2 separate regions of the Homo sapiens genome follow, and region 2 is linked to region 1. The links come from fine-mapping of genetic effects on gene expression. A gene starts in region 1. The other region holds a variant in brackets. All regions are shown on one strand. Distances are between the middles of the regions.

Region 1 (2,912 bases):
AACTAGAGATCATTCCTTCACTATAGTAATTATCTACAGATAGACATAGAATGTGTCTAACAAACACAATAATCTACCAGAGGATTTCTGGAATCTTTTTAACCATGCAATGGCAGTAGACAACTGCCATCAATTTGTATTTATAACGCCAAATGAGAAGCTAGGTTTACTTGGCAAGTATAGATAATGATCTAGTGGCTCTAGAGTTATAAAGTAATCAGGTACGATTGTCACTCTTAAGAGTGACAGGTGCTTCAACATGATTTAAAATACTTCAGAGGTTTGTCTTTATCGTCTCTTGTTTACTGACAGCCCACAAGGCAGGGTGAGAGACCTCAGGGGAGAACAGGAACTTTACAAAGGAAAACAGAAGAATCAGCAAGAAAACCACAACATGCTCCCTGCCTCAGAAAACTCCAAAAACCACCTACTGAGAAGTCAGACTTGGTTTCAATTATCTTCCGAGCCAGGAAGATACAGGTGAGGCTTGTGAACTGAGACCAGGGAACAAGAGTTAAGCTAGGATGACTCTACGGGTGAACGTCCAGGAAGCCATGGATCTACCGCAGTCGTCAGAGCCCAGCGGATCCCTGGCAGAGTTAAATGCTCGTTCTGAACCAAATGTCCGCTTCCGAACCAATCGCTGGTGCTCACTCGCAGCCCCAGTCCCAAGCGTACTCCAGCGCCCAAGGGTCGCCCTGACTGAAAGAAGAGAATCAGGCCTGTAGTCATAGGGTGTAGGGATGCCTCCTAGAAGAGGGGAAAAGATCAAGATGCGGAGAGGCTGGATCCAGCCAGATACGCGACCCAAGGGGCTTGGGACACCCTCACCTCTTCCGCACAGAGCCCTCCCTCTCAGGACAGCGCCAGCCTCCGCCGCCGCTGGACCAGCCCTTCTATTCAGGCTGTGCAGCTTAGAGAAGGGGGCGGAAGGGAATAATCGTAGGGCGGAGAGAAAACACGAATAACGAGACCGCAGGGCATGCTGGAAGTCGTAGTTTCTTCTGCCTCTGCTGTCAGGCGCTGTCCCGACGAACCACAAGGCTTCTTGACTACAGCCCCCAGAAACCCCAAGCACCGTGCTAGGTCATTTCCTCTCCTTTCCGCGAGACCTTCCGCGGTTATCCAGCGAGTCACGTAGCAAGACTACAATTCCCATGAGGCTCAGCAAGGGCGATTTAGGGTCCAGGGAAGCAATGAGACGTGTTCTTTGTTTTCCTATGGGTGAGGAATGGTTGTATGAGCAGTTGGGTTTCGGGACGCTTTTTGGGGAGAACCCGATGGAGTCTGAAGGATCTCTAAATCAGGCGGAACCCACGGTGCGGCGAGTTGGGACGGAAGTAACCGGTGGGAGTGGGGAGGAGCCGGAAGTTAAGGAGGGGAGGGGGTGGAGGGAAAAGCAAGCCAGGAGGTGCTTGCGGCCGCTTCTAGTAGTTTCCAGGCGCTGCCGGGCGGCTGGCACTAAGCGGTCCTGAGGCTGTGGCTACGGCTGCTCCGGAGCTGGTGGCGCCGCGATAGGAGAGCCGATGGCCAAGTGGGGTGAGGGAGACCCACGCTGGATCGTGGAGGAGCGGGCGGACGCCACCAACGTCAACAACTGGCACTGGTGAGGGCCAGAAAAGCAGGCCGGCCTTGGGAGACCTGCGGCCGGGCCAGGGTTTCAGGGTTCCTAGAACCTCGGCCCGGACAGAGCTGGGGCTGAGGTAGCCCTGTCCGGAGATGGGGGTGGGTCCTTCCTGTGGCAGGGGTCCGTAGCCCCAGGCCTCTCCACTCCGCGGTCACCTTCTCAGTGTTTGAGGGGAGGGAGATGGACGTGGAGGGCTGCGCCCCAGAGGAGGGTTGTCAGAGAGACTAGGAGATAACGCCCTGGCTGCTGCATCCAGCCCGAGCAGGGAGGTGCTTATTACACGTGGCCAGAGGAGTCACTGAGACTGGAACCTCCTTTGATTGTGTTGGGAGATAGCTGTGAAAGGCCTAAGGCCAGGGGTCTGTAATTCCTATTTTGCGGCCTGCGGTAAAATTAAAAGTCATTCATAGGGGACCGCTGCAGCGGTCCCGCGGGAGATTGAGAACGTGTTGTGCAGGTGCTCAGAGCTCAGATAGCTGCGGCCTCTCACCCGGAACTATCAGGTCGGGTGTGTTGGAACTCCAGGTTGCCGAGCAGCCGTGGTTTTATAACCTGACCGTTCTTAAAATAACTGCCCTCCTTCATGAAATCTTCCCAAAGTAATATTAGTTTCCTTATTTTTGAATTCCACTGAACTTTTTTCGTAATGTTTGTATTGTACCGTTACTTTGTTGCAGCCTTTTTTGCTGTTGTTTTCTCTAATAGTTGATAAGTAGGAAGGCAGATAGTGATGTTTCTTTTCCATATCTCACTTTGTATTCTCTCTTCTTAACATGCAGAGTACTTGACCTAATTTTTGTTGTTTGTTTTGAAGCCCTGGACTTAACGTTTTTGTGGCCATCTAGGGGACAGTGAATGTGTAGGAAGTTTATAATGCAAGTGCGAATCTGATAGGTCAGAACACCGTGCCAATGAGGTCAGGGTTATTGGTTTAATCCTTTCTGGGCCTTTTAGCTAAGTACTATTCTTTCATGGTCCAGTCTGTGTTCCTGATCTCAGCAATATGTGCAGTTTTCCACTTGGTCAAATGGGGGCGCCATGTTAAAGTATCAAGTATTCCCCCGCACCATCATGCCGAGAAAGGAGAGCATAATTTTCCATTGAGTTTATACCATTTTCTACAGCAGCTGTCTTTGTTGACAGTGTGCAACCCCTTGTCTTCCTAAAAAAGAATGACATGTTTGTGGACATACTGGAGTGCGACTGGGAGTTTTTGTGTTCTTTTCAAACTATTTGTCAGGCCTCCTTTAACCTCGTATTCTCTTGCATAGAGCAGCGTATCCTC
Region 2 (2,912 bases), 23 kb before region 1:
TCCTGATATTGACTCTGCCCCTTAAAAATCAAAAAATTTCTCAGTTCAAGAACTTCTTAATTCCCAAGCCCCAGCACTGCTATAGGCCATTCAGTCTTCTCTCACTTTCCCAAACTCATTCCTTTCCACCTTTAACCTTGAATATCAAAGGACACACTGTACAGGGTTACAAAGCAACATCCACTCCATGTAGTTACCCTGATCACTAGTTTCATAACACTGACCAATTTGTATCTACCTTAAATGTCTTCTTCAGGTTGACGGGACTGCTGAATGTCCCCTAGGATGAAAGTGAAAAAGGAACTTTAGTGATATTGACTTTCCCAAGTACCACCCAAGCTCTCATTTTCTTTCCCACTACAGAGACTTTCTACATCTTACTCTGCTGCCATTTAAACATAGAAATTAATTTCAGGGAAAAGCTCCATTGGGAATAGTCAGATACCACTATAAGCTGGCTTATCAAGAACTGGAGTAATAAGTATGGTGCCTTTTCCCATTTTCTGCTAATCCAAATAAGGAGAAAATGTCTGCCTGTTATCATGGAATCCATACTTCTTTGAAAAATTTAGAAAGAAAAAAAGAGTAGCCAGGCGCGGTGGCTCTCACCTATAATCCCAGCACTTTGGGAGGCTGAGGCAGGTGGATCACGAGGTCAGGAGTTCAACACCAGCCTGGCCAACATGGTGAAACCCTGTCTCTACTAAAAATACAAAAAAAAAAAAATTAGCGGGGAGTGGTGGCGCACACCTGTGATCCCAGCTACTCAGGAGGCTGAGGCAGGAGAATTGCTTGAACCCAGGAGGCGGAGGTTACAGTGAGCCAAGATCGCACCACTGCACTCCAGCCTGGGCGACAGAGCAAGACTCCATCTCAGAGAAAAAAAAAAAAAAAGTATCCATAGCTACTTGCCACCCTACTGCTTTTCTCCACATCATGCTAATCCATTTGATATTGTGGACCTTTGAACAGAGACTTCTACAGGTAACAGCACCAGGGACAGAACTTGCTATGCTAGCATGCCAGCTCACTTGAAGCTACAAACCTTACAAACCTCTTTTCCCTCCTGGCCAGATGAGGCCCTCTTACCCCTGGTGAGGGCCAGGAAAGCTTCCAGGTGGATTTCTGAGAACTATACATACCCATTATTAATAGAGTACATAAAAGTACTGGATTTGAACTATCTTCTTTTTGTGCAATGAGAGTTTGTGGAATCTTCCATATTTTGCCTGTACCTCAGCCTCTGTGTAGTGATAGAAGCAGGAGTAGAAAAGTGTTGTCACTAGTGGCATGTTGAGGATGGAGGCTTTGCGGGGGTGCTTTCGGAAGATCTCAGTCTGTCCTGCTGATTCTAGATGGCGATCATTTGCCTGTGGTGGAGTGAGCCAAGT[G/GA]AAAAAAAAAAAAAACAATGTCCATGGAGTAGAGGCAGGAGAAAAATCTTTTAATACTACAGCAGTTGTGTTTCCCACCCTAGGAGAGAAACAAAGAACAGAAAAAGAAAGAAATTGCCTAGGATATCCCCAGAGTAGTTTAAAATCCATCAAATGATCATGAATCCACATTGGATGGAAACAAATAGAAGTGGGGAGGACATGGGAGATTCGGGATGAAGAAGAAATACTTCCAGGTTAACAGCTGGTAAGAGGAAAAAGGATCCTAAAAACAATGGAGGAAGGGGGCTATTGTGTACAGGCAGAAAATGAAAGGCTTTTAGAAACCAGTAAGAAATGACCCACGTGCAGAGCATAGAAATCTCCTAGATGCTGAACGGCACTGAGCCTTGGCACTGAAGCAAAAGATATAGAGATGAAGAGTCTAACCTCAATAATGATCTGACGTTCCAGGAGCGTGTAATGGTCCTGTATGTGTGCGGAATCTTCTGCTGAAAATGGCAAACTGGTAGAGTGCCAGAAGGTTAGTACCTTTCTCTATTCAAACAAGGAAACAAACCCAACTAAACCAAATCGCCAGCATAAGTATAAGAGGCTCACGGTGCCTCACAAGTCTGATCTCAGTTCACCTTTAGAGCGTCCCTTAAAGAAAGACATCGCATGAATGGCGTGAATTTCATATTAAAGGTTTTGCCAATTCAAGAGGGATCCTGAGAGTCCACAAAATACTTATAGTCACTCATAATTTTGCTGATAAATGAATTAGAATCCTCTCATTTTGAGAGTTGGAATATTTGGTGAATGAGTCACAAAGCTAATGAGTGAGCCTAGGCAACTGCCCATCATCCACATCCCAGTGAAATTCTGTGGCTTGTGCTTAACTTACTGAGGGGACACCTAGATTTGTTAGCCATTTTTTTATGGCAGAGTACAAAAGGTAAATTAAATTACATGCCATGGTGGTATGTTTATAGATCAGCAAATATCACAAATGTCAAGGGTCCCATCTTCAACACTGCATTATGTTTTTTGTTTGTCTGCTTGTTTTGAGATGGAGTTTCTCTGTGTCACCCAGGCTGGAGTGCAGTGGCATGATCTTGGCTCACTACAACCTCCACCTCCTGAGTTCAAGCAATTCTCCTGCCTCAGCCTCCAGAGTAGCTGGGACTACAGGCGTATGCTGCCACGCCCAGCTTATTTTTGTATTTTTAGTAGAGACAGGGTTTCACCATGTTCGCCAGGACGGTCTTGATCTCCTAACCTCGTGATCCACCTGCCTCAACCTCCCAAGGCGCTGGGATTACAGGCGTGAGCTGCTGCGCCCGGCCACATTATTGTTATACATGAAGATGCTGAGGGACAGCGTCTTGCCAAAAAGTCATGTGGTCAATGGGGAAGGCCAAGAATAGAAGCCAGATTTTAAATGCCCAGTTCACAGATATATCTTTTAGAAAGTGCTGCATTATTCCCCATACTCTGCTCACTCCAGGAAGAATTCTGAGTTTTAATTACACTATTCCA

Which allele goes with the higher level. Alleles are on the strand shown, and positions count from the first base shown. SD is a standard deviation of normalised expression in the study named.
With allele GA in place of G in region 2, the expression in monocytes after LPS of the gene that starts at base 1,430 in region 1 is higher (small effect, 0.35 SD a copy in Fairfax 2014).

The links. PIP is the estimated chance that this variant, and not a neighbour inherited with it, causes the effect.
Region 2: its variant is fine-mapped to the expression of AHSA1 in monocytes after LPS (Fairfax 2014, PIP 0.95).

Annotation. Positions count from the first base shown.
Region 1 is chr14:77,456,664-77,459,575 of GRCh38, forward strand. AHSA1 (activator of HSP90 ATPase activity 1) reads left to right here and starts at 1,430. Exons shown (of 9, transcript NM_012111.3): 1 at 1,430-1,606. The coding sequence starts at 1,527. It overlaps VIPAS39 (VPS33B interacting protein, apical-basolateral polarity regulator, spe-39 homolog), which reads right to left and starts at 938. Exons shown (of 20, transcript NM_001193315.2): 1 at 832-938. RefSeq lists enhancers at 736-1,258, 877-1,336, 1,259-1,781, 1,507-1,686.
Region 2 is chr14:77,434,024-77,436,935 of GRCh38, forward strand. It overlaps VIPAS39 (VPS33B interacting protein, apical-basolateral polarity regulator, spe-39 homolog), which reads right to left. Exons shown (of 20, transcript NM_001193315.2): 13 at 1,821-1,896; 14 at 1,236-1,370; 15 at 239-280. Among named protein-coding and RNA genes, the nearest start is that of NOXRED1, 12 kb to the left of the region's middle. The variant G/GA (reference allele first, on the strand shown) is at 1,392.